Homo sapiens: one gene and its partners. The protein of the gene in region 1 purifies or fractionates together with the protein of each later gene. This does not show direct contact. Each region holds a gene or a part of one and is shown in the gene's direction. Other genes may lie near its edges. The genes, in order: SPACA1, MTNAP1, GOLIM4, TTC21B, FASTKD3, KIRREL1 and SLC25A26.

Evidence for each region.
Region 2: the proteins of SPACA1 (region 1) and MTNAP1 purify together in Homo sapiens (affinity purification with mass spectrometry; 3 studies listed by BioGRID and IntAct, with this or other methods). This does not show direct contact.
Region 3: the proteins of SPACA1 (region 1) and GOLIM4 purify together in Homo sapiens (affinity purification with mass spectrometry; 3 studies listed by BioGRID and IntAct, with this or other methods). This does not show direct contact.
Region 4: the proteins of SPACA1 (region 1) and TTC21B purify together in Homo sapiens (affinity purification with mass spectrometry; 3 studies listed by BioGRID and IntAct, with this or other methods). This does not show direct contact.
Region 5: the proteins of SPACA1 (region 1) and FASTKD3 purify together in Homo sapiens (affinity purification with mass spectrometry; 3 studies listed by BioGRID and IntAct, with this or other methods). This does not show direct contact.
Region 6: the proteins of SPACA1 (region 1) and KIRREL1 purify together in Homo sapiens (affinity purification with mass spectrometry; 3 studies listed by BioGRID and IntAct, with this or other methods). This does not show direct contact.
Region 7: the proteins of SPACA1 (region 1) and SLC25A26 purify together in Homo sapiens (affinity purification with mass spectrometry; 3 studies listed by BioGRID and IntAct, with this or other methods). This does not show direct contact.

What each region holds. Positions count from the first base shown.
Region 1 is NC_000006.12:88,061,341-88,064,840, forward strand, and holds part of SPACA1 (sperm acrosome membrane-associated protein 1 precursor), read left to right. Parts: intron 1-2,739; coding exon of another isoform or gene 2,740-2,758; coding exon 2,759-2,879; intron 2,880-3,500. UniProt on the Homo sapiens protein: Plays a role in acrosome formation and establishment of normal sperm morphology during spermatogenesis. Important for male fertility.
Region 2 is NC_000017.11:73,235,433-73,238,932, forward strand, and holds part of MTNAP1 (mitochondrial nucleoid-associated protein 1), read left to right. Parts: intron 1-43; 5' UTR 44-50; coding exon 51-1,563; coding exon of another isoform or gene 1,564-1,664; exon of another isoform or gene 1,665-3,206; intron 3,207-3,500. UniProt on the Homo sapiens protein: Critical regulator of mitochondrial DNA (mtDNA) abundance. Binds dsDNA throughout the mitochondrial genome without sequence specificity and controls mtDNA copy number by promoting its replication.
Region 3 is NC_000003.12:168,085,925-168,089,424, reverse strand, and holds part of GOLIM4 (Golgi integral membrane protein 4), read left to right. Parts: intron 1-3,500. UniProt on the Homo sapiens protein: Plays a role in endosome to Golgi protein trafficking; mediates protein transport along the late endosome-bypass pathway from the early endosome to the Golgi.
Region 4 is NC_000002.12:165,877,277-165,880,776, reverse strand, and holds part of TTC21B (tetratricopeptide repeat protein 21B), read left to right. Parts: coding exon 1-98; intron 99-809; coding exon of another isoform or gene 810-949; exon of another isoform or gene 950-3,500. UniProt on the Homo sapiens protein: Component of the IFT complex A (IFT-A), a complex required for retrograde ciliary transport and entry into cilia of G protein-coupled receptors (GPCRs). Essential for retrograde trafficking of IFT-1, IFT-B and GPCRs.
Region 5 is NC_000005.10:7,862,532-7,866,031, reverse strand, and holds part of FASTKD3 (FAST kinase domain-containing protein 3, mitochondrial), read left to right. Parts: intron 1-48; coding exon 49-134; intron 135-3,034; coding exon 3,035-3,209; intron 3,210-3,500. UniProt on the Homo sapiens protein: Required for normal mitochondrial respiration. Increases steady-state levels and half-lives of a subset of mature mitochondrial mRNAs MT-ND2, MT-ND3, MT-CYTB, MT-CO2, and MT-ATP8/6.
Region 6 is NC_000001.11:157,996,645-158,000,144, forward strand, and holds part of KIRREL1 (kin of IRRE-like protein 1 isoform 1 precursor), read left to right. Parts: intron 1-3,500. UniProt on the Homo sapiens protein: Required for proper function of the glomerular filtration barrier. It is involved in the maintenance of a stable podocyte architecture with interdigitating foot processes connected by specialized cell-cell junctions, known as the slit diaphragm.
Region 7 is NC_000003.12:66,224,001-66,227,500, forward strand, and holds part of SLC25A26 (mitochondrial S-adenosylmethionine carrier protein), read left to right. Parts: intron 1-3,500. UniProt on the Homo sapiens protein: Mitochondrial S-adenosyl-L-methionine/S-adenosyl-L-homocysteine antiporter.

The sequences.
Region 1 (3,500 bases):
TTAAGATGAGGTTGTACTAGAGCAGAGTGGGCCTTTAATCCAATATAACTGGTGCCCTCATAAGAAGAGGAATATTTGGGCATGCTTGTGCGCACACACACACACACACACACACACACAAACACAGATGGAAAGTGGGGCGCGGAATGCCAGGTGAAGACACAGAGAAACAGACATAGGGAGAAGACAGCCATGTGAAAATGGAGACAAAAATTGGAGTTATGCTACCAGAATCCAAGGAATTTCTGAGCCTACCAGAAGCTGAGAAGCTGTAAGAGACAAGGAAGGATCCTCCCCAAGAACCTTCAGTGAGAGCATGGCTCGGCCAACACATTGTTTTCAGACTTCTAGCCTCCAAAACTGCGAGACAATACATTTCTGTTGTTTTCGTCACCCAGTTTGTGGTACTTTGTTATGGTGGTCCTAGGAAACTAATAAGTACATAAGCTTAGTTTATCTAAAAGGTGAGAGCATCAAATTTAGCCTATTTTTCATTAAATACTTCAATAGGAAATTGAGCCTATTTTTTTCATTACCTGTAAAAATAGTCTAGGTGACCCTTGCAAGACTACTGTTGTAATAAATAAAATCTTCATGCCCCTCACTCTCCACCCTCTCTCAGCTAACATTGCAGAGTAATGGATAAATGAAATTTGCATTTCTCCTTGTCAGGTGTCAGTTCTGAAAGGTGTTTTTTATTTAAGTTTCCAAAATGCCACCACTTGTGTAAATCTAAAGTTATTTTGAAATAAAAAGATTTTTAAAAATCCAACAATGTTGGAACGTAAATATAGATGTATTTTCTCTAGCATACTTGGAACTATTTAGCGAGATCCCTAACTTGAGTTTATAGCTCTAGAATTACTAGGCAAAATGGAAACTTATACTCCATGATGTCTAACAGATAGGGAAACAAATCCAGAAAAATAAGCAGTTGAGATTGCTCATATAGAAGACTAGTTCTGACAGAGTAGTACTTATCAAAATCAAAGTATTTAAATAGTCAAAATATACCTTGTACAAATTAAACCTCCCTGGGCCTTGGTTTACTTATCTGTATAATGCAATAGTTGGATCAGATGATCTCTGTAGTTCTTTCTTCCATGAATCTTTTATGATTCCAGAATTTGGGGTCATAAAAGAGATACAATAAAGCTATGTAATTCACAAAGTAAGTAATATTCTATGTTAATTGGCTTTTTACTAGTTTACAATGTAGCAATACTGTAATACATACGGTAGATTGGCTTTGTCTCTTTGATAACCTTATTTGCTGAAAGAGCAGAGAGACATGGGAGAGAATGCTTGAGGTAAGAGTGGTGCATGAGGTGGGTACAGTGGTGTGTGCCTATAATACTAGCTACTAGGGAGGCTGAGGTGGGAAGATCACTTGAGCCCAGGAGTTCAAGGCCAGCCTGGGCAATATAGCAAGACCCCATTTCCTAAAGAGAGAGGGGTCGGGGTATGTGGATATGTGTATAGAAAACAATGAGCTTCAATTCCTTTCTTACAGCAAATATAAAAATTAGAGAGGTATCATAGTCTTAAGTGTAAAAGCTAAACCCATAAAGTTTTAGGAAAGAAATATAGGAGACTATTTGCATGATTCAGGAGTAGGCAAACGTTTCTTAGACATAATTCAGAAAACAATCACCATAAAAGGAAACATTGAATAAATCAGACTGCATCAAAATTAAAAACTTCAGCTCATTAACAAAAATCATTAGGATAATGAATAGGCAAGCCAAAATCTGGTAGAAAACATTTATAAAACCTGTACAGTCAGTACAATCAGTTTGAGAAAGTTCTCATGGTTTCTTAGACAGCTAAACACACATCTGTCTACCCTACGACCCAGCAATTCTATTATTAGACATTTAGCCAAAAATTAAGATATATATTCACAAAATGACTTGTATAAGAATGTTCATGGCAGCTTTATTTATAGTATCTCACAACTGGAACAGCCTAGATATCCATCAGTAGGAGGATGAGTAAACAAATTGTGGAGTATACCTAGTAATAATAAAAAAATGATAGTTGCATATAACAGTATGGGTGAATTTCTAAAACATTATTCTAAGTAAACAAATCTTTACACAAGAGATTACCTAGTGTGTGTTTCAATTTATATGTAGTTCTAGAATAGTCAGAGCTAATCTATGGTGGAAAAGAAAATCAGGATGCTTGTTGCCTCTGGAGGATGAGGAAGGAGTTAATTAGGAAGAGGCTCAAGGGAACTTTCTGGGGTATAGTAATATTCTATATCTTGACTAACATTTAGTTACATATATGAGTTTGCCTTTGTCAAAACTAAGCAAATGTACATTTAAGATCTTTGTGCAATTCTTTGTGTGAAAATTTTATTTCAAAGAAAAAACTAATATTAAACTCCAGTTAACGATATGCTTGCTGAAAAATTTTTGAGGAAGTGTACTGACATTTGCAAATTATATTGAAATGCATAAAAATAAGATGGATTAATGAATTGATAGAGGAATGGATAGATGAATTTTAAAATATTAATGGTAGTATTTAGATGGTGGTAATACAGGCTGTTCGTTGTCAAATTCTTTTAACTTTTTTCATGTTTGAAAAGGACATTTCAAACATGCAGAGCAAGATCATTAATAATTTTCTCTGCACTAAGCATTTCTTTATGTTTCTAGAGTTGTTTTTCAAATATAAACTTTTAAGTTAGATATTCATTTCCTTTTCCTCAGTAGTAATACTCCTTAGGTTTGTGTGTTTTCTCTAGAATTGCAGATGAGAAGATCAAGCCTACCAGCCACTGATGCAGCCCTAATTTTTGTGCTGACCATAGGAGTCATTATCTGTGTATTTATAATTTTCTTATTGATCTTCATAATCATAAATTGGTAGGTGAATAGTGGAATGCATCATCACCCTTGATTGACATCCTCTTCTTCCCCCTCCTCATCCAGTGAATTGCAAAGCCCTGTCCGTGATGTCTCCTACATGTTGCCTTGAAACTGTCCATCGCCTTTCATTACTCCTGTGACTGCCCTAGTTCAGGCTGCCCCGTCTCTTTATGTAGATGCTTTTTAAAACAATCTCATGACTTGCTTCTCCAACTATGAGAGAGCTTTTAAATGCAACTTTTACAATTTTACACGGTAATTGCTTTAAAAAGTTTTATTTAATGAATATTTGTGTTGTCCAGTTGTGGTTCTCTCAACTCTAAAACTTGGTTATTGTAACCTACTAATTCATTTGTATGACAATATTTATAATACCTACATGAGTAGTACACCCTGGTAAGTCTGAGGGCTCATATACTATCGATTTGTAGCTGATGCATCGCAAACTAAAAATGAATAATGAATACAAAGGCACTTCTTAGAGAAGAGGTAATATATATGTTTTATATATATGTACATATATATGTACATATATTGTATATACAATATACATATATCTTCTATGTACATATAATGTATATACAATATACATATATCATATATAGGTCATATGTGTGT
Region 2 (3,500 bases), on another chromosome or scaffold:
ACAAACTATGTGCTTCTCATAATCTCACATTTACCTTTTTCAGGAATAGGATGAGTGATAATCCACCCAGAATGGAAGTGTGTCCTTACTGTAAGAAGCCATTTAAACGATTAAAATCCCACTTGCCATACTGTAAGATGATAGGACCAACCATACCTACTGATCAAAAAGTTTATCAGTCCAAGCCAGCTACACTCCCACGTGCTAAAAAGATGAAAGGACCAATCAAAGATTTAATTAAAGCTAAAGGGAAAGAGTTAGAGACAGAGAATGAAGAAAGAAATTCTAAGTTGGTGGTGGACAAACCAGAACAGACAGTGAAGACCTTTCCACTGCCAGCTGTTGGTTTGGAAAGAGCAGCTACTACAAAGGCAGATAAAGACATCAAGAATCCAATCCAACCATCCTTCAAAATGTTAAAAAATACTAAACCAATGACTACTTTCCAAGAAGAAACCAAGGCTCAGTTTTACGCATCAGAGAAAACCTCTCCTAAAAGAGAACTTGCCAAAGATTTGCCTAAATCAGGAGAAAGTCGATGTAATCCTTCAGAAGCTGGAGCGTCTTTACTGGTTGGCTCAATAGAACCTTCTTTGTCAAATCAAGATAGAAAATATTCCTCAACTCTACCTAATGATGTACAAACTACCTCTGGTGATCTCAAATTGGACAAAATTGATCCCCAAAGACAGGAACTTCTAGTAAAATTACTAGATGTGCCTACTGGTGATTGTCATATTTCTCCAAAGAATGTCAGTGATGGGGTTAAAAGGGTAAGAACATTATTAAGCAATGAGAGAGATTCCAAAGGCAGGGATCACCTCTCAGGAGTCCCTACTGATGTTACAGTTACTGAGACTCCAGAAAAGAACACAGAATCCCTCATTTTAAGCCTTAAAATGAGCTCATTAGGTAAAATCCAAGTCATGGAGAAACAAGAGAAAGGACTTACCCTGGGAGTAGAGACGTGTGGGAGCAAAGGAAATGCAGAGAAAAGTATGTCTGCAACAGAAAAGCAGGAACGGACTGTCATGAGCCATGGCTGTGAGAACTTCAACACCAGGGATTCAGTCACAGGAAAGGAGTCTCAAGGGGAAAGACCACATTTAAGTTTGTTCATTCCGAGGGAGACGACTTACCAGTTTCATTCTGTATCGCAGTCAAGTAGTCAAAGTCTTGCCTCTCTAGCTACAACATTTCTTCAAGAAAAGAAAGCAGAAGCCCAGAATCATCATTGTGTCCCTGATGTAAAGGCATTAATGGAGAGTCCCGAGGGACAGTTATCTCTGGAGCCCAAATCTGATAGTCAGTTCCAAGCATCACACACTGGGTGCCAGAGCCCTTTATGTTCAGCCCAGCGTCACACTCCTCAGAGCCCCTTCACCAATCATGCTGCAGCTGCTGGCAGGAAGACTCTTCGCAGCTGCATGGGGCTGGAGTGGTTTCCAGAGCTCTATCCTGGTTACCTTGGACTAGGGGTGTTGCCAGGGAAGCCTCAGTGTTGGAATGCAATGACCCAGAAGCCACAACTTATCAGTCCCCAGGGGGAAAGACTCTCACAAGGTAAACAAGCTTATTTTCAATTGCCATCTGTCCCATCCAAAATGCTCTCTCTGCCTTTTGAATTTATAAGGGTCAAAATACTAACATTTTCAGTCATTTAGTTTATTTTCACCTAGGCATGCCAGTAGACTGCATATAAAGTTGTCCTGAAAGAGGCTGGGTGTAGTGGCTCACACCTGTAATCTAAGCACTTTGGGAGGCTGAGGCCAAGGCAGGTGGATCACTTGAATTCAGGAGTTAAGACCAGCCTGGGCAACATGGTGAAACCCCATCTCTACTAAGGATACAAAAAATTAGCTGGGTGTGGTGGCGCACCTGTAGTCCCAGCTATTTGAGAGGCTAAAGTGGGAGATCACCTGATCCCGGAAAATCAGGGCTGCAGTGAGCCGAGTATGTGCCACTTCACTGCAGCCTGGGCGACGGGAATGAGACCCTGTCTCAAAAAAAAAAAATTGTCCTGAAAACATTACTTCTTGCTTCAGTGGTCAGTAGTGGTGGTTTATCCCTCTCTTTTTCTCTCCCCCAAGAGTTGAGGGTTACACTAGGGCAGGCTGGCGATACTGAAAGCAGTTGAGTTTCTGCCTTGAGAAGAGGCATGTCCAGTAGAAACTGGATGGGTAAACAGACTGGAGAAAAATATAAAGACTTGAAATTCAGCTAGATAGAATAAGCACTGTGTTCAGAATCCAGTCAGGACCAGGTTGTACAAGAAATAGGTTCTAAGTTTACAGGACAAGAAATAGGTTCTAGGTTTCAGGCAAATGCAACATCTAGGAATTTAGAGTAGCAAAGTAGGATGCAGGTGGTAGGACACAGGTAAAACTAGCCAGGTAAGACGGGCAGGCAAGGCAGATAAGTGGAAGTGGAGGCTCAGGAAATGAACAGTGAAGATCAAGGACCAGAAACGGAGGATGTGGCCAAAAACAAAAGAAAAAATGTAGGCCACAGAGACTAGGACCCAAGAATAAAACCAGTGATTGAGCCTGGAAACAGGAGAGATGAGGCGAGAAGGGCTTGGGGCGAAAGACTGAACGTTGAAACTCACCTTGATTATGAATCAAACTTCAGAAGCTTCCTAGAGGCTCCTTTTGCTGATGGCTGGAATCGGTTAACAGGAGGGAAGACCAAGGCCCAAGGAGCCAGGAAGTTCCTGACAGTCATTTGAAATATCTTTGCTTTTCTCTGCTGAATCTCATCTTTAGTTATGAGACCACCTCTCTAGTTAAAATACATAAAGTTTCTTAAGCTTTTCTAGGGGCAGGGTGATTGTAAAGTAGCATACCTGTCGTTTGTAAAGTAGCATACCTGTCGTGTGTAGTGGCCATTGGTGCTTTCATGCTTATTTTGACAGGAGACCTGTAACAACTCAGAATAGGTTTGCAAGAGAAAAACTGGTATTATCTCTTCCTAAAGGGAAATCATTTTCTTCTCTGGTAGATTTTGCAAATGATCTCATATTCACTAAACCTCTATTTGCCTGGTCTCAAAATGGATGTGTACTAAAAGCAGAACATTGCTAGCCCAAAGCTACATTTTCTTTAACTACCTTCTATAAACAGGCCTAACGTCTAGACCTTTTTGCACAAAGTTGTAGTCACAAAGTCAAGCCCCTTCTCCGTAATAAACACATTTAATTATATTAACATTTGTGTTGCTTTGTGGTTTTCAGAGTGCCTCCATCTGTATTTTTTTTATTTTGGGCACAAGGTGGACAGAGAGGTGGGCAGAGTGAATTTATCCTATTTTGTGGATGATGAAACAGGCACAGAGAGCATAAGTGATTTGTCCAAGTTTGTGTTGCCAATAAATAGTAGAGCTGCAAGGAGAACCTAGTTTCCTGAGGCCTAGTTTAATCTTTTCCACTAAACCATGTTGTAGAAAATACACCATAACTAAAACCATGTTTGTTATAGTGCCATACTTTTCTGTGTGTGTGT
Region 3 (3,500 bases), on another chromosome or scaffold:
GCATTTTGGATGATTGAGGAAACATATACAACAGAGTGGTTCATAGACCTCAGCAATTTAGACCACAAGTGTGGGCAATGTGTGGTAGGTGTACTAATTTTCAAGTGCAGCGTTAGAACTTAAAACATGAACTAGACATTGTCTATTAAATGGACATCTTCACTGAAGTACAACTTAGAGTTAAATGAAGAGACTATCATTTTTGCTTGATCCTGTACCATTTAGAATATGGAACAAAAATACTCTTAAGTTCAGTAATTTTTATTTGTGTGTAAATTCCTTCCCTGAATAAAAGATAAAAGCTTCCAAATACCTTTTGAAGCTCTAATTCAGTGAAGCATTCTTTTGAATATGTATGATTTGCACATAATCTATAATCGATTTCACACGTTGTGCCCACCTTAGTCATCCCTCTAATATGTAACATGCCAACTCTAATGAGAGTACTGGTGTCCAGGTAAATAATTGGTTGCTGTGTAAGAGAATTACTTGTTATCTGGGAGCCTTTAGTTTAAGTTCCAAGTAGATTGGAAGCCTTGCCTTGATTTCTTTTTATTCTTTCTTTTCTTAGGAAGGACAGTTTCCAAAAGGGCTGGGGTACAATACCACATTACTGTGGCTGAAGGAATAAGTGAATTGGAGTTGGGGAAATGAATACTGACTAAATATGGTGTGAATCAAAAAGCAAAGGATTGGAGAGAAACCAGAAGAGGGCAGGGAAAGAAAAGGGGACACATATCACCTGGTGACTTTTCAAAGTACTGAGGAAGAGTTTTGTTCACATCTTTATGTCCTAAAAGAAAAGCAGCAGGAAATGGTGACTGGAGAGCTGGTTGGGGCATCAGATGTGGTTTCAGTGCAACTCAGGCATTTACCAGCAGGGTGACCTTGAGCAGGCAAATAACCTCTCTGAACTTCAGCCTCTTCGTGTTTTAATTTGGGTTAGCAATGTCTAACTTGCAAACTTGTATGGATTAGAAATAGTGCATCTGAAGTGACGAGTATGAGTCCTGGAGAATATTACTACTACCATTTATTAGGTGACCAGAACTACTGTTGTTGAATTAACATTGGGCTTCTTTTTATTTTGCCCAGCCTTTACTACATCTAGTAGGTAAGAGTGTTATTAGTGCTGGCCTAAAAGTGGCTCCTTTCACTATGTGCCCTACTTGGCTGAAACTTTTTGATTAAGATATTCTCACTCTGTCTTTTCTACCCTTTTGAGCCGTTCTTGGGGTGGAAAAAACCTGAAAATGCTTTACATGATAGCAACTAAGAGTTGTTGTTTTTCATTTTGACAGCCAATGGTTCTTCTTTTATCATTAAGGACAAAGTGGTTTTGCTACTTTTGCCAGTAGATGGTTTATGGGTTTTATAGCTTTATTTTGAAGTGAAAGTTATATATCATATAGCTTTATTATAAAAGAAAAATGATAAACTATATTTTCTTTTTAGCCAGTGTTCTTTGGAGTGAATTTTAGTAGAATTTTGAAAACTTATTTGAGAAAATTAAATTATTTTTAATCCATAACATTTATTGAGTACCTACCATGTTCGGGTTCAATGCTAAGCTTATTACATGCATTATGTCATTTAACTGTGACACTAGCACTTTAATCTGAATGAGCAATCTGAGGCTTAGAGAGGTTAATTAACTTGCCAGTGTCAAGATCTAGCCTGATGAAACTAAGCTTAGAAACCTAATGTAACTTTTTCCATAGTGCATCATTGCCCTCAAAATTATTTTAGTGTCTCTCATGACAGTATTAATGGTTTTAAGAAAGTAGGTTAGGTGGGTCATATGGGGATTCATGATAAAATTTAGAATCAGAAATAACGGGTGTACTATTTGATGCAGCATTTCCAGGGTACAAGAAATTTGCTGCTGGTATGAAAGATGATTTTGGTTGATACTAGAGTTGATTTTATGTGGCATGTAGATGTTGCCTGAAATGACAGTGAATCATATAATGAAAAACTTATTTCCTTTCAATGCTTTCCTGACAAGTAATGGAGAAATTCTCAGTCTGATGCTAGAATCTCTCTCCTAGAGAGTTGCTTCTCTGTTTTTCCAAAGAGAATAGACGTTAGGCAGCCAACAACTTGATAGCTAGAATTTGATAATTGTTTTGTTGTATTATTGTATTTAATTTTAAAATTAAATCTATTACCAATCATTAATGCTATGTAAATCAGATTTTTCATTTATAAAGTAGTGGTGTAAAAGTTTCCTGTTTAAAGTTTATTTTAAGGAAAAATAAACTTATTTAAGTGATTATTTGGTGGATTCAAAAAAACTGTACAGGTTTTGCATGAGTGTAGTAAGAACTCGCCTGAGGGGTGCCTGCATGTCTGAAGTTTAGGAATGCATTGACTGATCAAGTTGGATACAGACACTGAATTTTACAGTTAGTTAACTGAATTCTAAGGTGGATAAGTCACTTACCAGGTAGCTTAAGCTAAGCTGAGAGCCCACATACTCTGACTCTCAGTACAAGATAATACCCCTTCACTGCTCTGTGCTGTCTCTGTAGACTAGGACCCTCTTCTCTGTGAGAAGAAATGGGCATTGCTATTTTTAAACAGTGCTGTGTATTTCTGAATGGTATATTTGTGTTCTTTGTTTTTATTGGCCCATGAGTGCATATGCAGAAGACATGTCAGTCATTGTCCTTCACTGATAAGCTTTACTAAATAGGCTCATAGCCCGGAGGGACATGGGCATGAAATAAATTGCTCTCTATAGCCGTATGACATTTTAAAAAATACTGCTTTAACTATTTTTCATACATAAAATGTCACAATATGATAGTGAATAGAAAATTAAGATGTGCTGTCATTCTGAAGGATAGGCATTATAGAACATTGAAATGATATTATTTGCTTTTCTTTGGGAGTGCATGAAGTTAAAAAAATTATAATCATTTTAGGAGAGTCAGACATTTCATTTTCCAGTTCACATCTCATTTAAAATGCCTCCTTTAATTGGAATCTTTGTTACAAACAGAAAAAATAATCTGCAAATCAAGATATTTAGGACAGCTTTGACATTGCTTATGTGTTCTCTTGATAATAGCTATGATGCTGTCAAATAAATATTATAAACAGATTAAAATTTGGCAGTTGATAATTGATTAATTTGGTTTAGAGAAGTTTATCAAGTTTTATATTAGTGAGATTTATTAATAAATAATATTAATATTAGAAATCTATGATGCTTGCCCTTCTGCATTAGTAGCTCAATCTTTTAACAGACAGAAAATGTTTTAAATTATTTTATATTTTATTTAGAGGTTTGGATGCTATAAAACAAGTTAAATTGTATTGATGTCAAACATCACTTTTATTAAAATATGAAAAATAATTTTTTTTACTGTATAGGCGGTCATCACCTCAAAATCTAGATGCCATCCAAATTTGATCCAGGTGTGGGTGAGGCCCCTTAGGTATCCATACAATCTTTAACTATAATTCTTCAAGTATGCTTCCTCTTTATCTGT
Region 4 (3,500 bases), on another chromosome or scaffold:
TATGGGATACATTATGGAAAAAGAGCAAGCATATACAGATGCTGCCTTGAACTATGAGATGGCATGGAAATATAGCAATCGGACAAATCCGGCAGTAGGTGAGTTTGGCAATCACCTAGATTTTTCACAGAAAAATTATGTTGTATTTATTAATTTTCATTTAAATGCATTTGATTTTTTTCAAAACAAAATAAACATTGAGTCAATTTTCATTGTCAACCTTTCTGAAAGGAGAATAAATTTTATATTCATAATATATTATTAGCTACTAATAGTTCAGTTTCCTGAGTTCCAAACTTGTCCTCAGTCACTTAGTGTACATCTAGTCTAATTCTGCCCCCTTCTCTTCCTTCTAAAAGAAGGTGCTATTTTGAAATTGGGAATGCCATGGAAAAAGATGTTTCCATTGCCAAGTAAGTTAGGAAAATATTGCATTAAATTGAATTACACAGGTTTCTTTACTTCTCAAAGCCTTTAAACACTAACGTATATTGCGATGGATATCACAGAGGGGCCATGTTTCCCACAATTATTTGACCATGGGACATTTTTTTTTTCTCCTGAGCATCTAGAAACATCATCCAGTCCCAGGCTGGATGTTGCAGGCTGTTAGTTTGGGTAATGCTAGTCTACAGTGTCCCTAACAGAGGTGGCATCAGAATATATGTCATGACCAACCTCTCTCCTCATACGAGGGAGCTCATCCTCATGTTTGTGTACTCTTTCTTTGTATTGGGTTGAAATATGCCTCCTTGAAACTGCCCAAGTCTGTTTTCCGGAGCAACTTACAGAATGCCTCCCTCTTACAGATCATGACCCTTTAAATTGCAATCTTCAGTCCTGTGTCCTAGGACTTGTCTTCAAGCCATCTGCAGTTACTTGTCCATTCTTCCTAAGATTGGATTCCGAGTCTCTCATCTTCCTTGTTGCTGTCTCCTGGAAGCTCTAAAATAGTGTTTCCCAAACTGTGCTTTGGAACAGTTGGGGAGATTTTAATAATTATTTTTTTTTTAATTAAAAAGAATGAAGTGTGAAGGTGGTAGATGCCATGGCCATGTAAGTTTGGAAAGTGCTGTTTTATTTTTCCATGCCCCTCTGACCTGTTGTACCATAAATGAACAACCTCTCAAATATGATTTGGCTTCTTATAAGTATAATTAAGCTATTTTTTTCTTTTGATTAGGCAATTTGTAGTTGTTAATTCAGCCTAAGATGGCATCAGTCTTTTCAGCAGCCATGTCACCGTGTGAATTCGATTTTGATTTGCAGTCAAATGAGTCAACCTCATACTAACTGCTGTTAGCTCAGGTCTTCCCTCATCTGTTAGTTTCCTGGAGTCTGTTCTCATACTATACTAGACTTGTGCAAAGCACAAAAACTAATGATTTTTATAGTATTTTTTATTCTAAGGTGTGATATATCTTTCAGAATAAAGTCATCTGGTAAAATGAAAAGTCCTTAAATATCCTTAAAATATTAATTTTGACACTTTATTCCATAGAAGGAATGCACATAGAAGTTAAATTATTTATATATTCCATTCCTTGGAAGACCTCAGCAAATAAAGAGATTCCAAATGACTAGTTCTTTCATTGTGTCATCATTGTATTTTATAGATTATTTTATCAGTTCCTCTAGCTTTGCTTTGGTAATCATTTCTTTCTAAGGCTCTCCATTAATTCCTCAATTTCATCCTTAAGATTGTCATTGCATCTAACACCCTCAATGTGCCTGGCCAAATAAACAATGTATTTCACTTTTTCAGTTGTCAGAAAACCCTTAAAATCATGCTCATGGCCAGGCGCAGTGGCTCACACCTGTAATCCCAACACTTTGGGAGGCCGAGGTGGGCAAATCACCTGAGGTCAGGAGTTCGAAACTAGCCTGGCCAACATGGTGAAACTCCGTCTCTACTAAAAATACAAAAATTAGCCGGGCATGGTGGCGGGCGCCTGTAATCCCAGCAACTCAGGAGGCTGAGGCAGGAGAATTGCTTGAACCCGAGAGGTGGAGGTTGCAGTGAGCCGAGATCACACCACTGCACTGCAGCCTGGTTGACGGAGTGAGACTCTGTCTCAAAAAAAAAAAAAAAAAAATCGTGCTCATGCTCTTTCCATAGAATTCAGGGTTGAATATTGTCACTATAAGAGGCACCAGGATGAATGATGAATGGATAATTTGCTTGACTGCAGTAATCATTTATAAATAAATATATATACACACACACACATATATCTACACACCCACATCTACACACCGACATCATTTTGTATATCTTAAATATATACGAGGAAAAAAAGAAACACACTAGGAACAACTGAGATCCAATGAGAGAAGAAACTACTCATGTTTCACCCTTCATACCTATTCTCAGGTTATAGGACAGTCATTAGACTGTGTAGAATGTTTGCATTCTCTCGCTGTCTCTCCTGATTGCATATAGTTGAGTTCTAATAAGTTTGGCAGGTGTAGTGCAGCTGCAGTGCACATTTTCTTTCCCCTTCTTAGGTCTTTATTTCCTCTGAAATTTTTGTACCAGGTCATGTATCAAGTTTCTTCCAGTGTTAAAATTCTGTGATTATAATATAGTGAATGCTTACATTAAAAAATGCTAATATTTTGTGGTATTCTAAGGTTTTAAAAACCATTTCACAAGTATTTTATATGATTTTTAAAATTATACTAAGAGTTAGAGGGAGGAGTTGTTATTCCTGTTTTAGCGATGAGGAAACCTGAAAATGACAGCTCAAGCCACTTGCGTAAGATCCCAAAGCTAGTCAAGAAACCACAAACCAAAACTGAAATCTTGACTAGTTCCCATGTAAGTATGTTTGGCATGACATCTTAAAAATTGCTTTACTTTTTGAATGTCACAAACCCTTTTAGTTCATTTTAGAATTTGTTGGTAATGACATTAAGTTTACCTCTCTGAAACTTCTTATTTTTGTCTAAAATCTGAGATGTGAGATTCTGCCATAGGCCCTGCCCATGTGTGCCTGTGTGCATGTGTGTGTGTGTAGAGATATATATATACACACCTATATAGACATACATATATATACACACACATATATAAACATACACACATATATATATGCAGTCATGTGTCGCTTAACAATGGAAATCTTCTGAGATATGCATCATTAGACAATTTCATCATTGTGTGAACATCTTAGAGTATACTTACACAAACCTAGGTGGTAGATCCTACTACACACCTGGGCTATCTGGTATAGCCTATTGCTCCTAGGCTACATACCTGTACAGCATGTTACTGTCATGAATGCTATAAGCAATGTGTGTATGTAAACATAGAAAAGGTACAGCAAAAATACAGTATAAAAATCTTTGGGACCACCATCATGTATGTGGTCTGTTGTTAATGAAACATCATCATGCAGTGCCTGACTATATATAAAATAGTGTGAATTTTAGATCATTTCTATTTCTTTCTTTTTACTACCATCTGATAATGTTAGCCAGTAATTCTTTTCAAACAT
Region 5 (3,500 bases), on another chromosome or scaffold:
CATACCTCAATTCAGACGTAACTATGACTGGGATGCTTTCTGTTTCAGGTAAAGAATCTCATTTGGACACATTGAGTCGGGCACAACTGACCCAACTTTTCTTAGCCTCAGTCCTGGAATGCCCTTTCTATAAGGTAAAAGCATGAACTATATGTGGCTTTATTTCCCCATGGGTGCAGTTTCCTTTTAAGTTCCTTTACTTCTGATCTGTCTCAATAACCTGAAAAAGCAGAATTTCATTTACTTGGAGTCAGTTGCCACCAGATAGGCTTTTCTTTGATAAATGGACCCCATTTTTGTGTTCTTGTTCTTGAAGGAACAATTTCCTGCTGTTTAAGATTTCTTAGGAGGTTTTATCAAGTGCTGCAGGCATGTGAGTTACAGTATTTCTCCATTCTCTCTGAAGGTTTTACAGGGTTTTAGTACTAGGTTTACTACTAGGTTTCCCATAGCTGTTTGTTATCAAAGTGTGAATGTCTGGACTGAACAAATACCTAAATTATTTGCAAGTACAGTATATTTTTAAGCCAAGCCAGAAATTTCACTTTTATCTAATAGAGTTTAGTTTATCTAGAGTTCGCTCTTCCCATAAAGACCTATAAAGATTTATCCTATTACCTATCACATTCCTTATGTAGAATCAGAAATAGCACACCAGACTATGACATTCTCTCTCTGCTTCTCTCTACTTGACTCTGAATCATAGTTTAGAGTATCTGATTTTTGAAATAAGGTAATAAGAATGGAAAAATACCCCTTTTTTAAAACAGCTTAGACAGTACTAAGTTATATAAAGATAAATAATAGTTAACCCCGATCTCTTACCATTTCTAAAGGAACAGTATTAAAAGCAGTTTCTACGCCCAAATGTATACAGATACATAAACACTGTCTATTTTTTTTCTCTTTTCAAGGAATGAGACTCACTAATCAAAGTACAATTTGCTTTTATGCGCAGTATATCATGGCCATCCCTCGAGGCCAGTGCATACAGATCACATGCATTCTTTTTAGAAAGGCATGATATTTCATGGTGTTTATTCTACTATTGATGCACTTGGAGGTTTTTGCAACTTTTGTCTCTATCGGGAATGCTATAATAAACATTCTTGCAAATCCTGTCATACTAGAGCCTTTTTGGTTTTTTTCATATATAAACTAGATTCCCAAAAATGTGATTAGTGGATTAATTTTTGATGGATACTGGCAGATTTTTTTTCCCTAATAGTTACAGATGTCACATTTCCCCAGCAATGAATGAAGGTGGCCATGTCTCCTCCACTTCTATTGCAGTGTGTTAGTAGTCTCTTTAATTTGTGTTACTCAACTACATGAAAGAGGATATCATATCATATATTTAAGTTGCATTTTAATGAGCATTAATGAAGTTTAGCATATTTTCAAATATGTGTTGGCCATTTACATTTCTTTTGAATTGCCTTTCTACACCTTAATTTATTTCTGTTGGATGGTTTGTCTTTAAGGACTCATTGTAAAACAGATATTAACTATTATGAATGTTGTACATATTTTCCCGATTTGTACTCTTTTATTACTTTTTAATATTACTTATGATGTATTTTTAAATGTTCTGTAGTCGAATCTGTCTTTTATGACTTCCGAGGTTCCTATCTCAAGAGCATGAATATTTTACATTTTTAAAAATAATATCTTTTAAATTTTATTTAGATCTTTGATCTAAAAGTAAAATTGAATTTTTATTTATGTATTCTAATTAACAAAAATTGTATATACTTATTATGTTCATGTTGTTTTGAAATATGTATACATTGTAGAATGGCTAAATCAAACCAATTAACATGTGTATTACCTCCATATCTATCATTTTATTTTGTGGTAAGAATATTTAAAATGTACTCTTGCCGTGCGCAGTGGCTCATGCCTGTAATCGCAGCACTTTTGGAGGCCAAGGCGGGTGGATCACCTGAGGTCAGGAGTTCGAGACCAGCCTTGCTAACATGGTGAAACCCTGTCTCTACTAAAAATACAAAAAATTAGCCGGGCATGATGGCACACGCCTGTAGTCCCAGCTACTCTGGACTCTGAGTTAGGAGAATCGCTCAACCCAGGAGGCGGAGGTTGCAGTGAGCCGAGGTCGCGTCATTGTACTCCAGCCTGGGCAACAAGAGTGAAACTCTGTCTCAGAAACAAAAACAAAAACAAACAAAAAAAAAGGTAAAAAAGTACTCTCAGCCATTTTCAAGCACGCAATCATTCTTATTAACTATAGTCAGCATGTTGTACACCTGGAATTTATTAGCATCTGTCATGGATGACAGAAGTTTAATTTAGTTATTTTCCAAATAAATAACCATTTTCTCCAGCATCGTTTATTATATTGCTATCCTTTTCTTCCTAAACTGGAATGTCATTTATATCACATTTTCCATTACAGATTGAGTATCCCTTATCCAAAATGCTCAGGACCAGAAGTGTTTCAGCTTTCAGATTTTTTCATATTTTAAAATATTCTCATTATATTTACCAGTTCAGCATCCCTAATTCAAAAATTTGAAATCCAGAATGCTTCATGAGCATTTTCTTTAAGCAGCCTGTCTGTGCTTAAAAGGTTTCGGATTTTGGAGCATTTTGGATTTTGGATTTTCAGATTAGAGAAATTAAACCTGTGTTGAAAACTTTAGTTGTGTGTACTTAAGACCCTTGGGACAATTCTCAGTTCTAAAAATGTTTCTTGAACTGTTAGCATTATTATGTTTCTTCTCACTCTCTCCTCACTCCTTTTTACCTTCCTTCTTTACTTTTCTTTCTGTTTATGGTAACCAGTGACTACTGTAAAAACACATATAAAAGACATTTTGAACTATTAGACTTGCACTGTAAGAAGAGAAGTTTGCATTATCATTTTGAGAGAGATGCCTGTCCCAATTCCTGGAAAAGTATCATGCCTATAAAGTAATGTTATATCAAACTTTTCTACCTAGGTAACCTTCAATTTATTCTCTGTTGTTATATCTTATTTTTCTTTCTCACATTTGCACTTATGATTTTTTAGGGTCCAAAACTCCTTCCTAAATATCAAGTGAAGTCATTTCTTACCCCATGCTGTTCCCTGGAGACCCCTGTGGATTCTCAGCTTTATAGATATGTGAAGATTGGGCTGACTAACCTTTTAGGAGCAAGATTATATTTTGCTCCAAAAGTGTTGACACCCTATTGTTATACAATAGGTAAGTAGTATAAGGAGTTTTGTTGTTTTAAACCTAAGCATCCTGTTCGATTTTGGAGATATATGGGACTTAGAAGCAATAGAAGTTCTCTGGAAATGCAAAATGGAATGGTCCCTTCCCTGAAGGCAAGTTGGGGTTAGCAGCAGAGCCGTTGAGTCAAGACTGTCTGGGTTTAAGTCTCAAATATTAGCCACGTAGTAGCAGAATATCCTGGGCAGAATATTTAACCTTTTTCTGCTTGCTTCTTCCTCTGTAAAATGATAGTAATATTGACCTCAAAGACTTACTTAA
Region 6 (3,500 bases), on another chromosome or scaffold:
TAACTGGACTCTCCCCTTTCGGTGCTACACATAGACACATATACACACTTTAGATGTCCCACTTCTGCCCAGAGCAGGGCGCTGAGGTTGGGGAAGAGTCAGGGGAGACATGGCAGAAACCAGGACACTGGGTTCCTCTCTTTGACCTTGACTGAACTCCACTTTCTGCCTTCTACTCACTTAGACCCAAAGGGAGGGTGTGAACCAAGTACTCAGTGCCTCAGCCCTGGGCCCCAGAGCACCTGGTCAGGAGGAGGAGGAGGAGGCATCCAGGCCTTCTCGCCTCTGCTCCTTCCCACAGCTGAGTGGTTGGTTGTTCTGGCTCTGCCTTTGGCGCTCCAGTGAGATGGGAGGAGGAAGCCCCACCTCTGCCCCCCTAGGACCTCTTTACACCCTTACAAGGACTAAGTCTTAATTTCTTTTATCCTATAGTTTCTGGTGGTAAGTGCCCCTTAAATATCTGATCAATTGATTGATTTGATGAGCGCGCTGCAGTGCTGGAAAGAGGCAGCATTCGATGGCGATTAAATCACAGACTCGCATCCAGCTCCCACCTCCACCATTTGGTAGTCGTAAGCTTGAACAAGTCATGTACATTCCCTGTGCCTCAGCATGCTCTTCCAGAAGTGAGGATGGAAGTAATACCTCATAGGGTTGTGGTGGCACTTGAATATGTTAATCCATGTAACGTACATGGAACAGTGTCTGGCACAGCGAGAAGTGCTCAGTAAATGCTTGCTATCTTGGCTTTGAGGTGAGACATAGATAGACAGGCAGTCAAGTTGTCTGCGCTTCCTTTTCTTCTCCCTATGATTCTTTGTGGGGTGTGTGTGTGTGTGTGTGTGTTTTCTAGCTCCAGCTCCCCAGATTCTTGGTCCTGGGCTTCAGTAAGTGCCTTCTTTGTATCTCTCATGGAAAGAACTATGTTGTGGCAGACCCAGAAGGGGAAACTGACCCCCTCCTTGGAGACCTCAGAAAAGATCTGGGGAAGGGATTTGAGGAGAGAGAGCAAAAGTGGAAGAGGTTGGCACTTGAGTGAGAAGGAACCAGAGCTCTTGTGTGAAATGAGGAGGGACACTAGCCCCGAGGTGGCAGCATTTCAGAGTCTGGAAATAATATGGATCATTTATTGAGCCCTGTGTAACTACTTCATATGCATTATCTAATTTAATCTATGCTACAGCCCCCTGAGATTGGCTGTGTAAATTATCCCCATTTCATGGATGAGAAACTGAGATTTATTTATTTATTTTTTTAGATAGGGTCTTGCTCTGCTGCCCAGGCTAGGGTGCAGTGGTGTGATTATGGCTCACTGCAACCTCCTCCTAGGCTCAAGCCATTCTCCTACCTCAGCCTCCTAAGTAGCTAGGACCACACACACCTGGCTAATTTTCTTTTTTTTCTTTTGGAGAGATGGGTCTTGCTAGGTTGCACAAGCTAGTCTCAAACTCCAAGGCTCAACCGCTTCTTACATCTCGGCTTCCCAAAGTGCCGGGATTATAGGTGTGAGCCACTGTACCTGGCCAAGAAACTGAGGTTTAGATACATTAAGTATCTTATTGGTAGTTGTAGGAACCAGTGGATCCCACAGCCTGCACCCTTCTCCTTTGCCAGATCCTACATGCCAGCAGAGACTGATGCTGGACTGGGACAGGGATTTTCCTGGTCCATAGCAGAATGAGAACTAGGAAGAAAAGGGAGTGAGTATTTCATAAAGGTAAACTCATTCAAATTTAAAAAACAATCCTTTATTCTGAGATTCTGTCCTACATTTTTTGGTGTTAAATTGTTTTTCTTTGATGATATGATAAATCTAGTAAATGACTTTTTTCAAGGACTTGGCAAATAAAAAGGTTTGTTTCTAATATTAAACACAGCCTTGTTACAGGTCCATGAACTACAAATTTGGGAATTATTCTTGTTCCATGCAAGGCTGACTCCTGGAGAGGCCCAGAGCCATACAGAGGCAAAAGAAGCACTGAGAAGGGGTCTAGGGGATAATCCTGAGACCAGGATCTCCCCAAGTGTCAGCTTCCAAATTTGTCTGGTCCCTGGTAGTCTGGTAGGATTGGAGGCTAGGGTCTTAGATGGCTTGTTCTAACCCGCCTGGGGAGGCTTTCAACCCTCCTTCTTAGCCTGTGCCCTGGGGAACTGCCTGGCCTTGGGTGGTGAAAAGTGATTGTAGGAGGTGAACTCCATACCAAAGCATCAAAATTACCTTTTATTGAATTCCTACAGTGTGCTTTTCAGGTTAATGTTACTCCCATTTTATAGATGAAGAAACCACAGTTGAGAGTTTAAGTAACTTGCTGAAGGGCATACCTGAGGTGTTAGACCCCAGATTCAACCCCTCTTTTGTCTCCCTCCTAAGCGCCATGAGTGCCCTTCAGCCTGCCTAGAAGAGCCACACCCTGCCTTTCTTAGAGTTAAGGCAGCTGTGGAAGGACAGGAGGGAAGCCTAGGCCTTTTTTCCTCTCCTGGTGCCTCACTCAGCTCAGCCCCCTTCCCTAGTTCTCAGCCCAGAAATTCCAAGGACACATCTATCTCCCTGCCTTGCTTTGATGATCATTTGTGAAGCAAAACTTAGATGTCAGGATACATGTTTTAATCAGTGGGGCTGGGACCAGTAAATAATGCCCCTTGTCAGAAGGAGGTTTGGAAAGCCTCAATCCTTTTCCTCCCACGTTTAGAGTCTTTTATCTTTGTACCTGTATGGTGCTTGGCAATTTTAGCAACTTTTCACATGTACCATTTGATAGAGAGATACACTCATCCTATGGTGTAGGCAGGAGAGTTGTTTCTCCATTTAATAGATGAGAAAACAGAGACCTAGAGAAGTTAAATAAATTGCAAAGGGGTGGCAGTTGGTATGGAGGGAAGGGATGGGGACAAATTCCTTAATCTCCCCAATTTCTGGGAGATGTTTCCATCTGAGGCTAGAGACATTTCTCTTCATATGTCCAGAGATGAGAAAGTTATGCCCCTTCCCGACCTACCAGTTCCTGTCTGGTTTCTTCCCAGGGCCTCTGGACCAGTTTACTTGGCAATCTCCTGGAGGGTTCTTTGACCTGGAAAAGGATGGGGGTGTGGGGGTGGGTTGTCAGCAGTAGAGGAGAAAGAGGCTGTCATGTCCTTGATCCTCAAATGTGAAACCAGGGAGGAGGAAGAGGCAATTTCAGAAATCAGGAAAAATAATGGGCTCTCTCAGAGTGGGGGAGAAATCCGTTCACTTTTGTGAAGGGCAATTTTGTATTTTACATGCATTAGTAACTAATTCAATACTGACATAATTGTTGAAGTTAGGTGTTATCCCCATTTTACAGATGGACAAACAGGGATCCAAAGAAGTTAAGCAGATTGTCCAAGATGATCCAGCTAGTAAGTGACAGAGCCAGAACTAGAACCCAAGCAGGAAAGATGGGGTGGGGGCTGAGGATAATTCCTAGAAGGAAGACTGCACACCTACCTGTTCTGCATTACTGCTGCATGCAAGCGTGTGG
Region 7 (3,500 bases), on another chromosome or scaffold:
CCCATTTCTTGGACTAGTCTGCAGCCATAAAAAATAGTGCTTGTGAAGAGAATGTACTATAATTACATGGAAAATGCTTATGAGATAAAATTAAGAGAAAAACATTGCATGTATGTATATTTGCTTGTACCTAATTAAAGCTATGTTAAAACCTATTCCATTCATGGGGAAAAAAAGCCAGATTGAAATACTCCAAAATAGCACTAAGTATTTTTGGTGGTAGGATTACATCGTGTTAGTCTGTTCTCATGCTGCTAACAAAGATACCTGAGACTGGGTAATTTATAAAGGAAAGAGTCTTAATTGACTTACAGTTCCATTTGGCTGGGGAGGCCTCACAGTTGTGTGGAAGGCAAAGGAAGAGCAAGTCATGTCTTACATAGTGGCAGACAAGAGAGCATGTGCTGCAGGGGAACTCCCCTTTATAAAACCATCAGATCCTGTGAGACTTACTCACTATTACCAGAAGAGCAAGGGAAAGACCTGCCCCCATGATTCAGTTACCTTCTACCAGGTCCCTCCCACAACACATTGGAATTATGAGAGTTACAATTCAAGATGAGATTTGGGTGGGGACACAGAGCCAAACCATATCATTCCACCCCTGGCCTCTCCCAAATCTCCTATCCTCACATTTCAAAACCAATCATGCCTTCTCAACAGTCCCCAAAGTCTTAACTCATTTTAGCATTAATTCAAAAGTCCACAGTCCAAAGTCTTATCTGAGACAAAGCAAGTCCCTTCTGCCTATGAGCCTGTAAAATGAAAAGCAAGTTAATTACTTCCTAGATACAATGGGGTTACAGGTATTGGGTAAATACACCCATTGCAAATGGGAGAGATTGGCCAAAATGAAGGGGCTGTAGGCCCCATGCAAGTCTGAAATCCAACAGGGTAGTCACATCTTAAAGCTCTGAAATCATCTCCTTTGACTCCATGTCTTACATCCAGGTCACGCTGCTGTAAGAGGTGGGTTCCCATGGTGGCTTTGTGGGATACAGCTCCCCTCCTGGCTGTTTTCATGGGCTGGCATTCAGTGTCTGTAGCTTTTCCAGGCACAGGGTTCAAGCTGTCAGTGGATCTACCATTCTGGGGTCTGGAGGACAGTGGCCCTCTTCTCACAGCTCCACCAGGTGGTGACCTGGTGGGGACTCCTTACTGGGGCAGCCACATTTCCCTTCCACACTGCCCCAGTAGAGGTTCTCTAGGAGAGCCCCACCCCTGCAGCACACCTCGGCCTGGACATCCCGACGTTTCCGTACATCATCTGAAATCTAGGCAGAGGTTCCCAAAGCTCAGTTCTTGTCTTCTGCACACCCACAGTACCAACACCATGTGGAAGCTGCCAAGGCTTGGGGCTTGCATCCTTCGAAGCCATAGCCTGAGCTCTACCTTGGCCCCTTCTAGCCACGGCTGTAATGGCTGGGACACAGGGCACCAAGTCCTGAGGCTGCACACAGCAAGGGGGCCCTGGACCCAGTCCAGGAAATCATTTTTTCCCTCCTAGGCCTCCAGAGCCTGTGATGGGAGGGGCTGCCATGAAGGTCTCTGACATGCCCTGAAGACATTTTCCCCACTGTCTTGTCAGTTAACATTTGACTCCTGGTTATTTATGCAAATTTCTGCAGCCAGCTTGAATTTTTCTCCAGAAAATGGGTTTTTCTTTTTTACCGCATCATCAGGCTGCAAATTTTCCAAACTTTTATGCTTTGTCACCTCTAGGATGCTTTGCCACTTAGAAATTTCTTCTGTCGGATACTGTAAATCATCTCTCTCAAGTTCAAAATTTCACAGATCTCTAGGGCAGGGGCAAAATGCTGCCAGTCTCTTTGCATAGCAAGAGTGGCCTTTACTCCAGTTACCAAGAAGTTCCTCATCTCCATCTGAGTCCACTTCAGCCTGGATTTTATTGTCCATCTCACTGTCAGCATTTTGGTCAAAGCCATTCAACAAGTCTCTAGGAAGTTCCAAACTTTCCCACATCTTCCTGTCTTCTGAGCCCTTCAAACTGTTCCAACCCCTGCTTGTTACCCATTCTGAAGTCGCTTCCACATTTTCAGGTATCTTTATAGTAGCACCCTACTGTGGGTACCAATTTCCTGTATTAGTCTGTTCTCACACTGCTGATAAAGACATACCCAAGACTGGGTAATTTATAAAGGGAAGAGGTTTAATGGACTAACAGTTCCACATGGCTGGCAGAGGGGCCTCACAATCATGGTAGAAGGCAAAGGAGGAGCAAAGTCACGTCTTACATGGCTGCAGATGAGAGCGTATGCAGGAGAACTCCCCTTTATGAGATCATCAGATCTTGTGAGACTTATTCACTATCACCAGAACAGAATGGGAAAGACCTGCCACCATGATTCAATTACCTCCCACCAGGCCCCTCCCACAACATGTGGGAATTATGGGAGCTACAATTCAAGATGAGATTTGGTTGGGGACCCAGAGCCAAACCATTTCATGTGCGTTCTTTTCTTTTTTTTTTGAGACAAGGTCTTCCTCTGTTGCCCAGGCTGGAGTGCAGTGGTGCTGTCTCTGCTCAAGTGATCCTCCCACCTCAGCCTCCTGAGTAGCTGGGACTAGAGGCATGCACCAACCACGCCTGGCTAATTTTTTAATTAAAAATTTTCTTGTTTTGTAGAGACAGGGTCTTGCTGTGTTGCCAGGGCTGGTTTTGAAGTACTGGCCTCAAGCAATCCTCCTGACTCAGCTTCAAAGTGCTGAGATTACAGGCATGAGCCACTGAGCCCAGCCCATGTTGTTCTTACAGTTTTTAGAAAATTTTTTTTGTAGAAAGAGGTGTCACAGGTATGAGCCACCACACCTGGCCCACCCTAAGAATTTTTGTCAAAACATTAAAAACGCTTTGGTTGTAATATATAGGGGAAAAATTGCAAAGCTGATGTTTATTTAGTACACTGTAATTAAAAACATTAGAAACATTAATAACTTAATTTTTTGGACAAAACCTTATCAACAGTAGTTTGAACATTTGCTTGTGTTCTCATTATGTATTATAGAAGAAGCATCTTTTTATGCCTTGGCAAGTTGTCATACTGCTTTCTCAGTTTGGATCAACTTCTAACATTTTATTTTTTGTGCTTTCAATGTTGTGAGTTCGTTTAATGCGAAGACTTGCTGACATAACTTAGTCTGGGACATTTTCATCCTTTTCATCACAACTACTTTCCTTATTTATGTTAAATTTGCTCTCACTTATTTTTTCTAGTTACTTATCTAGATTAATGACAGCAGTGTGAATATTTCCATGGCCAGCTGTTTGTTCTCTAATACCATTTATGTCTGATTTTTGTTTAACTTTGTGTTACCACTTTTCATTTTTTTTGCATTTTCATCTTTGTTCATCAGTTTTCTGTCTATTTTTATAAAATGTCGTGTGCATTTATTACTGGGAGATGAGGTAACAACTATTTGCTGTCTGTGCGTAAACTGAGTAATAGGCAGTGATTTCTGTTAATTGTATTGTGATTTGT